Regions from separate parts of the Homo sapiens genome. Here region 2 is linked to region 1. Evidence: fine-mapped expression QTL. Tissue or cell type: whole blood. Region 1 holds a variant in brackets; the other region holds the start of a gene. All regions are shown on one strand. Distances are from middle to middle.

Region 1 (5,388 bases):
CCAGAGCAACCCCATCTTGAGTAGAAGCTGGGTAAAATGAGCCTAAAACCTACTGGGCTGCATTCCCAGACAGTTAAGGCACTCTAATTCACAGAATAAGATAGGAAGTCAGCACAAGATGCAGATCATAAAGACCTTGCTAATAAAACAGGTTTCAGTAAAGAACCCAGCTAAAACCCACCAAAACTAATACAATATGGTGACAAGAGTGACCTCTGGTCGTCCTCACTGCTATACTCCCACCAGCACCATGACAGTTTACAAATGCCACGGCAACATCAGGAAGTTACCCTAAATGGTGTAAAAACGGAAGGTATGAATAAGCCACCCCTTGCTTAGCATATAATCAGGAAATAAATAACCATCAGTATGGGCAACCAGCAGCCCTGGGGGCTGCTCTGTCTATGGAGTAGCCATTCTTTAGTCCTTTACTTTCTTAATACACTTGCTTTCACTTTACTCTGTGGACTCGCCTTGAATTCTTTCTTGTGTGATATCCAAGAACCCTCTCTTGGGGTCTGGATCAGGACCCCTTTCTTGTAACTGTATGACCTAGCAATTCTGCTCCTAGGTGCATACCCAAGAGAATTGGAAACACATGTCTATACAAAAACTTACACACAAAGGTTGATAGCATTATTATTCATGATATTCAAAAAGTGCAAACAACCCAAGTGGTCATCAGCTGATGGATGGGTAAATAAAATGTGGTATATTCATACAATAAAATATTACTTGACTTTAAAATGGGTGAAGGACTTGATATATGCTACAACATGGATGACTTTGAAAGCATTTTGTTAAGTAAATAAAAGTAAAATGACACATATTGTGTGATTTCATTTACATGAAGTATATAAAACAGACAAATCTATATATAGAGAAAGTAAATTAGTGAAGGAGGACAGTGGAGAAGGTGAGTGACTATTAAGAGTGTGGGCTGGGCACGGTGGCTCATGCTTATAATCCCAGCACTTCGGGAGGCTGAGGCAGGCGGATCACCTGAAGTCAGAAGTTTGAGAGCAGCCTGCCCAACATGGTGAAACCCCATCCCTACTAAAAATACAAAAAATTAGCCAGGTGTGGTGGCACATGCCTGTAGTCCTACCTACTCAGGAGGCTGAGGGAAGAGAATTGCTTGAACCTGGGAGACAGAGGTTGCAGCGGGCCAAGATCGTGCCACTGCACTCCAGCCTGAGCAACAGAGCAAGACTCCATCTCAAAAAAAAAAAAAAAAAAGAGTGTGGATTTCTTTTTAGGGTGATAAAAACATTCTAAAATTTGATGGTGACAATGGTTGTACAACTCTGAATATACCGAAAACCATTGAATTTATTCTTTACATGGGTAAATTTTATAATGTCTCACTAAAGCTGTTATTAAAAAGTACATATGGACTTTGATTTCAGTTGTGATAATTTCAATGAAGGAAACTTTTGGGCTTATAAGAAGAATGTGTACTTGGGGGTCTCATTTGACTTGACAGCCATGCAAATATCCTGATGGCAAAGTATAGTATGAAATTTTAAGTATTAACAAAAATAATACATGTTTTAAAAGTAGGCATGTAAAAGAGATTTGGTAGGGATGTTGTAGATACTTACACGTTGATTTAGTGGTTGAACAATATTAACTTTTTAGCATCTATCTGAGATTCTGTATTTAATTCTCAACAAAGATCTTCCTAGTTCTAATTCTCAGTGATTTTTATTTCTCTCCCTATAGAGAGGTCCCTCTCCCATATTTTGTAAGTCAATTTAGCCATCATTACATAGAAAAAAACAAATGCTTGTTCATTGCTTTAAATTGGTGTCTAGTTATGTGAACATAACTTGAGATATAAATTCCTTAAAAGCAAAACTATATTCATATTTCCTTTAACTGGGTTCCTATATGCATTTGATTAAAACAACAGTAATACCTTCCACTTATTGATGCAAACTCTGTGCCAGGCTAAGGCCATTTGTCTAATCCCATCTGAGTAATAACAATAGTACTATTCTTATTATTCCTAGTCCCAATGTGCAGGTGGGAAGACTGAGCCTCAGATAACACAGCGAATTAAATGGGGAAGTATTTTACCCTATGCAATCCGACCCTGGAATCAGTACCTTTCAGTACTATACTGCATTGTAACTTGAAAGTTTGCGGAATTAATAAAAGAAAAACTTCTCCCACCCCTGACTCTTTCTTTTAAATAGGTTGTACTTCCTTCTGAAAATATCGACTTGACTTATTTTTTTTTTATTTTTTTTTTTGTGAGAGTAATTAGCTTTTTCTCAGTCAGCATTTTAAATTTGTTGTGACAGGGATCCATTTTATGCTTTCCACGAGACCCGAAACAAAGTGTTTCTAGACATTTTATTGCCAGAATATGCATGCTTTGCTCCATGCTGCTTGTAATTCATTAAAATGTATGTGCTCTGCAAATAGGAAACCAATCTGCAATAAATCAGCTTTCTAGAAAACATTCATGGAAAGTGTTCGAAATGGTTGCTCTGTAAGAATACACAAACCTGCTTGGTATTTGTGTGATTTGCTGTCATTTATGGGGTTTGTAAACAAATAGTGGATTTGTGTGAAACTGTAAATTAGTAGCCTGCCTTCAGCATGTGTGTGAGATCTGCTTACAAAATGCCATTTGATAGCATCTGAGCAGATCACGATGAGCTCCAAATTCCTTTTACAGGGACAAGTGATGCACACTGGTCTGAATTAGATAAATTGCCCTGACCCAAGATTTTCAACTATTTTTTTTTCTTAATCCGAGACATATTTGTAGCTGCCAGAAAACCTAGCTCACGGGCTTGTACACAGTTGGCATCTAAGGCATAAATCAATGAAGAATAGAAGCCCACTCGTGCTTACAAGTAACAGGCTAAAGATAAGAAAATCAGTTGGGCTTTCAGTTTTAGCCACAGAATACAAAGCTTGTTTGTGCTAGGGAGAGTTATCAAACAACGTGGTGCAGGAGATAATGTGGGTATTCAGTTCCAGGCCTCCCCAAGACCTTTGACTACAGAGTACTTCTCTGAATCCATAGCAAGGGCAACCTACTGCTTCCCTGCGGAAAAGGAATCATGCAGTTCCTTAGGCCAGGGGGTATAAGTCTGTTTCCTGGTAG[A/T]TAAGGCTCTGAACCAGGGCAGGCAGTATTTTAGTAATGAGCATTCCTCAAATCAGTCAATGTTAATGAGGAACAAACCGTGACCAACCAAGGCTTTAGGGAGATGGCAGTTGTTGTGAGAAAGGATGTTCTGTTTGCCTCATGTTCTACGTGTTCCCTTAATTATTATGAGATTCTGTAAGTGAGCTCCTCTTCACTCTCTGGGAAGAGCTACCATTCTTTTTTATTACTTACACCTAAAAATTATTATTTTAATAAACGTAACATGATTTGTCTTGTAAATAGACCTGCTGTGCAATACCATTCTGCAGATTTTTTTTTTTGCTTTGACTTTGTGCAAATCAGTTTACATTACAGATGTTAATAATTGCTAGGCATGAGAGTGTTGTCTCTCCCTGACTCCTCTTTCCTCTTCCAAAAATGTTCTTTAAGGTCAAATTGAACAGCCCCCCACCTTTTTTTTTTAAAGTGGCTTACCCTGACTAATTCTACTCTATCCTGTTTGTTGTTTTCTTAATCCTTTTGTACAGTTTGTACTACAAAGCTGCATGCTTGATCCTATATTGCCTGGAACTTGTCTGTCTCCCAGTTTTCTGTAAGTACCTAAGCACAGGGTATGTCTTAACATATATCCCAAGTTTCCAGCACAGCAAGGATTTGTGGAAGAATTATGCCTGGTACTTATTAAATAAACAATAAATATTTGTTGAATCAGAAGTCTGAGTAGGCTTACAATAAATGCATACATGCTACCCGAGTGACCCAATGAATGAAACAAAATTGTTCTGTTTTGCATTTGGATGCTTTATTACCACAACTAGATTAAAAATGCATCAAGGACAGGGAGCATGCCTTCTGAAATACAAGAACTCATCATGAGGGCATGTAGAGTAGAGGTTGCTGGTAGGAGATTGTCAAGGATACACAATCAAGGTGGAAAACAAAGAAGGTGTGGGAAGCTAAGGACAGAAAGATCATGGGAAAGGAATAAGACTCATTTTTCTTCTATCATCCTTCTCCTTTCCCTATCCATCCCAGGGAGATATAACAAAGGCCAAACCTTTAGAAGGATATTTTGAAGAAGAAAGAAACTTTTGTAGAAGTTGTTGATTTTCCAGTATAAGGCCCCGGGGAGAGAGCTGAACTGTTGTCAGTTACTGTTCACTCCACAAGGATGTGAAGGCCTCTGATAGCCATCTTGCCGATTTCCCAGTTACAGTTTAGTGCTTGCCTATGGGAATCTCCTAATTAACAATCTTACAGTGTTCATGTCTTCTCTCTTTCTGTTTAGTTTCGTGTCTACAGAATAGAGATAGTGATCCTACATATATGGATATATGTATGCATATATGTGTGTGTTTATATATCTATCTTTATATCGCCATATAATTATAATGCCTGGGTTTGAATATTGGCAGCACCCTTTAATTGTGGTTCAATCATTCCTTAGCTATGTGATCTTGAGCAAGTTACTTAACTCCCCTAAGCTCCATTTGTTTTCTTCTGGAAAAGAAGGATAGTAATAATACCTACCTCATAGAACTGTTTCTAATTTTACTTTTAAACATAACTTTTTTTTCTCATGAGTAGACCTTATTATTTTTAGAGCAGTTTTAGGTTTACAGAAAAACTGAACAGAAAGTAGAGAATTCTCATATACTCCCTCTCTCCCACTCACAGTTTCCTCTATTTTTAACATGTTGCACTGGTGTGGTACATTTGTTACAACTGATGAACCAAGATTAAAATATTATTTTTAATTAAAGTCCATAATTTACCATAGAGTGTTGTACAGTTCTATTCTTTGGGTTTTGCCCCCCAGAATTAGGATTTTGCCAAATGAAAAATGTCATATATCCATCATTACAGTATCATACAGAATAGTTTCACTGCCCTAAAAATCCTCTTCCACCTACTTATCCCCTCTCTTTTACTGTCTCAGTAGTTTTGCTAATATACATGATATTGTGTTTTTAATTTCAAATTTCAATTATTCATGCGAGTATATAGGAAATCAATTGACTTTTATATATTAACCTTGTATCTTGCTACCTTTCTATAATCACTTACTAGTTCCAGGAGTCATTTGGTCAATTATTTGGAATTCTCTACAATAACAAGCATGTAATTTATGATTGAGGACAATTTTATTTTTTCCTTCCCCATCTGTCTCTCTTTTATTTCCTCTTACTGTCTTACTGAATTAGATGAGACTTCTAATATAATGCTGAATAGGAGTGGTGTGAGGGGACATCCTTGTCTTG
Region 2 (5,388 bases), 220 kb before region 1:
CATCAGAGCGGACTTAAGTAACCTGGTTGATCTTAGAATTGTCACAGCAAAATCATCATGCTCAGATGCTTGGGGCCTGGCAGAACCTTGCTGGTCTCTGAAGGATGGGATAAATGAAGCAACAGTAAATCAGGTGCACTCCTTGATTTTTCAGGTAACATAACTTTAGAAAAAAACAATTCTAATACAAGTGTAACCTTATCCTGTTAACTCTGTTTCAAAAATAATTCTAAAACACTAAGACAATGCTTATCCTATTGCCTCCAAAATAGGATTTTGTATTTTAAATGGTTTACCAAAAAATGTATCTTATACTTTTGGGTAAACTTTTATTTTGTTATACAACCAAAAATCTTAAAACTATCTTAGTACATTAACGTTTTAACAGGTCAACTTTTAGTCTTTATGAGCAGTTTTCACGAAGTTTTACTCGACATTTAAAAAATGTAGTTAACATACTGTAGATGCTTCAATATTGCTGCTTATTCTTTGTAATCTTATTTGGCATAATATAATCATGTTCAGAGTTATTTTAAAGTAACTTAAAGTGAACAGACGCACTCCCTCCTCCCCCCACCCTCAATTAAAAAAAAAAGGAAAACAGAAAGAAAGAAAAAGAACAAAAAATAAGATTAGGTTCTAGGAGGAGGGAAACCCTAATCCAAGTGTGGGGATACAGAAGTCAGCTTTTTGCACCCATTCTCCATGCTACAGAATAAAATTTGAGACTACAGCCAAATATTTTCTAAAACCTTTCAAGACGCTCCAGTGGATTTCTGGATTTGTTCCTTTAAAATCAGGATACTCTGCCTTTGCTCAGGGGGCAGCATGGCAATCTGATCTGCAGTCAGTTGAAGAACCTGCATGATCAAAGCTGCCTTCTCCTGATCCTGTGGAGTGACCTGGCTCTGCCCAGGACTAAAACTGCTAGGCTGGCTTCCACCTTGCTTGCTTGCCCCCTGTATACCTCCTCCTTGTATACCTCCTCCTTGTATACTGACTCCTTGTATGCCTGCCCCCTGCATCCCTCCTCCTTGTATGCCTGCTCCCTGCATGCCTGTTCCTTGTATGCCTGTACCCTGCATACCAGCTCCAGGATTCCCCACCCCTGAAATGCCTGGGACCTGTCTGGGTCCCTGAGGAGGGCCACCTGCCCCTATATTAATGGGACCAGGACCCTGAATTCCACCAGTCATAGGGCCTCTTGAACTGGGGACAGGGCCCCTCATCTCCAATCCTCTTGCATCCATGCCCCTTGCTTCCATCCCTCTGGTTTCCATCGCACAGGTCTCCATTCCTCTCCTCTCCATTACACGTGTCTCTAAGACCTCAGTTTCCATGGCACGAGTCTCCATCGCTCGAGAATCTCTACCACCTCTACCATCCATAGGTAGACCCCTTTGATCTATCATGGGGCCTCTGGGCTCTCCAATTAGCAGTCTGGGATCTCCTAATGGCCCTCCCCTCATCTCATGTGAGGAAGGGCCACGAGTGTCATGACCAGAGGCATGATGCATGGGGGGACCCTGATGGGGTGGACCCAGATAACCTCTGGGCTCCACTTCTCCAGTGACTGAAAGCAAAGTCCCTCCACGTGGGTCATTTGGAGCATCTCCTAACAGTCCTCGAGGAGGCAGACCACCAGGAGTCACGGGTCCGCGAGGTATAGGAGCTCTAGGATCTGACATCTGCACTTGTCCCCGCTCTAAAGGCACTGGGCCAACCCCTGGCATTCCAAGTTGGGGCTGCATTGCTCCTCCAGGAGTTAAGGAACCAGGACCAGCTCCGGGAACTGCAGCTGGTATTGGCCCTGGAGCTGGAATTCCACCCTGGATAGGAGTCTGCATCAGAGGAGGAATGTCCTTCACAGGTCTTCTAGCCAAATGCTGAGGCTGAGGAGCTGGAGGATTCTGCTGGTTCAGCAGAACATTAGGTCCTGGGCAGAGCCCAGGGCCAGGGCCAGGGCCAGGGCCAGAGACAGACACAGACTGAGATTTGCCTGGGATCAGTGGTGTGACATGTATCTTCCGATGCAGAATTTTCAGAGCAATCTCTGGATCCATGATTCTCATCACTACTTGTGCCTGCAACAGTGCATAAGCCAGTTGTGGATTTTGAAGTAACATGTTTCGAGCTTCCTGGTGGCTGTTTTGGACACAGAGCTTCATCTGCTTCATCAGCTCAAACATCTGCTCCGGGGGGAGACTGGCTACTGCTCTGGTAATCGATTCAGGGGCATCTTCTGGATCGATGGGATCCCCATAGGGTGAGTCAATAATGGGCGCTGCAGGCCCAAGGCTCTTTAACTCCTCCTTATTCTTTTCACTGGCAGCATTGTCCACCCGAAGCGCTCTCCCACTGAACTCCCGCCCATTGAGGTTCCGCATGGCACTAAGCGCGGTCTCCTGGTCTTGGTATTCGCAGAAGCCATAGCCCTTGGGTTTTCCCGTCTCTCTATCGTATACCAGCCGGAAACTGACAACAGAACCAACCTCCGAGAAAATGTCCTTTAACTGCTCCTCAGTTGCCTCATATGGAATGTTCCCCACGAACACGGAACGCAGTGATCGATCCATTGCCGGGTCTCTCACCGCCAAACTCGACATGATTCCGGTTGTGCAGACAGCCGATAGCGGATTCTTCGAGGCGTCTGTCCTCTTGCGACCGACACTTCCGCTGAGCAACGGAAGCGGCTTTCAAGATCCGGGCAGAAACTTTACTAATTCGCTTGAATCGTTCCGCTTGCCTGTGGAACCTGCATCCCACTAACAACTTATCTAATGCTTTCAGTCCCTGATCCTTCATGGTTCTGTCAGCTTCTTATTACAGAGTCGCATGATTCCTTTCCCATTTCACGTTCCGCTGACTTTCTGTGGGGCCCCAACAGCCCCACTACGACACGCTTGGTACGAGATGACCACAGTAAAGATGGCCGCATAGACTTCACCGTAGTAACTGGGAGGGGACTCTTCCCTTGACGTCAAAGGCGGTTTTGCTTCCGTTCCGCTGGCGGGAAACCGCCAACCGAAAGCGGATTTAAGGCGGCGTGTTTTTCGTTCTGACAAAGTATTTTCATGTGGCCTTTTATTATAGTATAGTTAAGCTAGATTTAAAATCACATTCCAGACTGAGGGAAAAGCGTAGTCGTTTCAGCACATTTGAGATTTGCCCCTTAAACTAAAACAGTATTATATCTCCTTTTTAGAACAACGTTTTTGGAAATTAACTGACAAGAAATATAAACTGAAGCGTGTGCCGGCTGGGCCCTGCCCCCATTCTGTTGCTTCCTATAACCGCTGTTAATGGATGGGTGGCAGACCCTTCTAGGTTTTTCCTGAGCACACGGGCAGCCGTCGTGCTATTCCTAATATTACGGTTTTCTTCCTTAATAACAACCGATTTCAATATTAATTGGTGATTAAATAAATTAGTGATTAATTAGTTATTAGTATTTTATGGCTTCAGAGTATGGAATAAAGAAATTTACTTAACTATCCCTACGTTGATTGGTTCTGATTTTTATTATATCATGCAGTGAGTCCACCACTTCCATGAAGGGAGAAACAAATAGCGGGTGTTTGTCTTCTGCTGTTAGCTTTGCAGGTAGGAGTTAAAACATATTCAGTGTGGTGTTTCCCCGCCTGCAATTCGAAGCTAGAACTGAAGCTTGGAGAGGGCTAGGTAAATTCCCAAGGACAAGCAGCTGGAAAGAGGCCAAGTCAGGATTCTAACCCAGCTTGGTCTCGCATAGCTCCAATTCTACACTGCCTTACGTGTATTGAATATATGAAATGAAGCTAGTGTGATTGAAGAAATGAATTTTAAATCTCATTTTTTATTTAAATATAAAAACTAATGTTCAGTAAGCTATTGGAAAACTTTTTTAGTATTTAGAACAACTTGGATATAGAATCTACTTTTGCAATAATAAATTGTGTTCTAAATAAAAATCATTTTGAAGAACACTAAGACAAAAAATAAAAACAAATAAAAAGAAAGTATTTCCAGTCAAAATTTAACATACTGGTTGAGGTGTGCCATACATGTAACATACATGAAAGATTTTAATGATCAAATACAAAAAAAGTAAAAATAGCCCATCAATTTTATATTTTTTATAAGTCGAAATGTAATATTTTTATATATTTGAGTAAAAAATTATTTTGAAGTTAATGTTATTCATTTCATTTTACTTTTTTAAATGTGGCTATTAGAAAATTTAAAATTATATGGATAGATTGCATTATACTTCTGTGGACTGGACTGCTCCAAGCCTGTGCTTTAATTCCAAAACAGAGAATTATTTTATTCTGAAATATGCCTCTTAAGTGGATTATGAAACTTTTAAATTTCAGCAAAAAAATTGTATTATGTATCTTCAGTATCCTATTCCAATGAATAGATTTGACATGAGTATGATGGTTTAGCTGCAAATAAGACATCCATTTACCTTCAAGTTTTTGAAACAGTTCTGCACTTAGCTGTTCACCCAAGATGCGCGACAGTTTATATTTGCAAGTGACAAGGTTCATTTACATCACCTAATAAGATTTTCCTGCTATGTCAAAGAAACGGAATAGTCACCTGCTAGCAATGTTTCCCCAGTGTGATTCTTTTATTGGGGACGAAAGGGGAGGGGTTAAGGATAGTATCATTTAAAAAAACTAAAGACAAATCTATTTTTCTTCCTTCTATACCATCACTTTACAAAGAGAAGGCATACCTTTTTTATACACATTCTGTCAAGGGTAACTTACAAGTTGAATATGTGTGTAATTGTGTGTGTATTAAATGTAGTAATCATGAAGATGGTAATGGGGTATTATAATATGTTGCAAAATTCGTAGAAGATTGCACATCTTGACAGAGTTTCTTTACTGCTGATACTGTCTAAACCAGTGGTCTTCACATGTAGCAGAACCACCTTGAGCCATGGCTTGTTAAGTCAGATTCTGCTTTATCAGGTCTGGAGAATTTGCATTTCTAATAAGCTCTCAGGTGATGCTGATGCTGCTGGTTTGGAGATCTTTAAGAATCATTGGTCCTAGGGATTGGTAGTAGATTTTCTCATTTACATCAGACCAAACTAAATTTGGTACACTCTATTAAAAGGTTTGAGGTAAAGGTTTTTAAAACATTATGAATTTACTATTAATATACTATTCTAGTACATGCTGATCTGCTACTGAAGATACCCTGGACATGAAGACTGGGTGAACAGAGAGTAGCTGAAGGACTATGGGACAAACAAGAAGGGGGAAGTTATGACTGTAGAGTGTGCTTTAGTCACAGGCTTTCCATGTTCTCTTTAGTCCCACTGTTCCAAACTAGAAGAATGGTTTGTCATGCCCCCGTTCATACAGGACCAGTGTGACCCACCATGTAATT

The links.
Region 2: it holds the start of CSTF2T, and the variant in region 1 is fine-mapped to the expression of CSTF2T in whole blood (INTERVAL, PIP 0.95).

Annotation. Positions count from the first base shown.
Region 1 is chr10:51,916,098-51,921,485 of GRCh38, forward strand. The region is part of intron 5 of PRKG1 (protein kinase cGMP-dependent 1); the gene reads left to right. Among named protein-coding and RNA genes, the nearest start is that of CSTF2T, 220 kb to the left of the region's middle. The variant A/T (reference allele first, on the strand shown) is at 3,125.
Region 2 is chr10:51,696,944-51,702,331 of GRCh38, forward strand. It overlaps CSTF2T (cleavage stimulation factor subunit 2 tau variant), which reads right to left and starts at 2,652. Exons shown (of 1, transcript NM_015235.3): 1 at 1-2,652. The coding sequence starts at 2,606. The coding sequence ends at 756. The region is part of intron 3 of PRKG1 (protein kinase cGMP-dependent 1); the gene reads left to right. RefSeq lists enhancers at 2,340-2,919, 3,044-3,732 and a silencer at 3,486-3,780.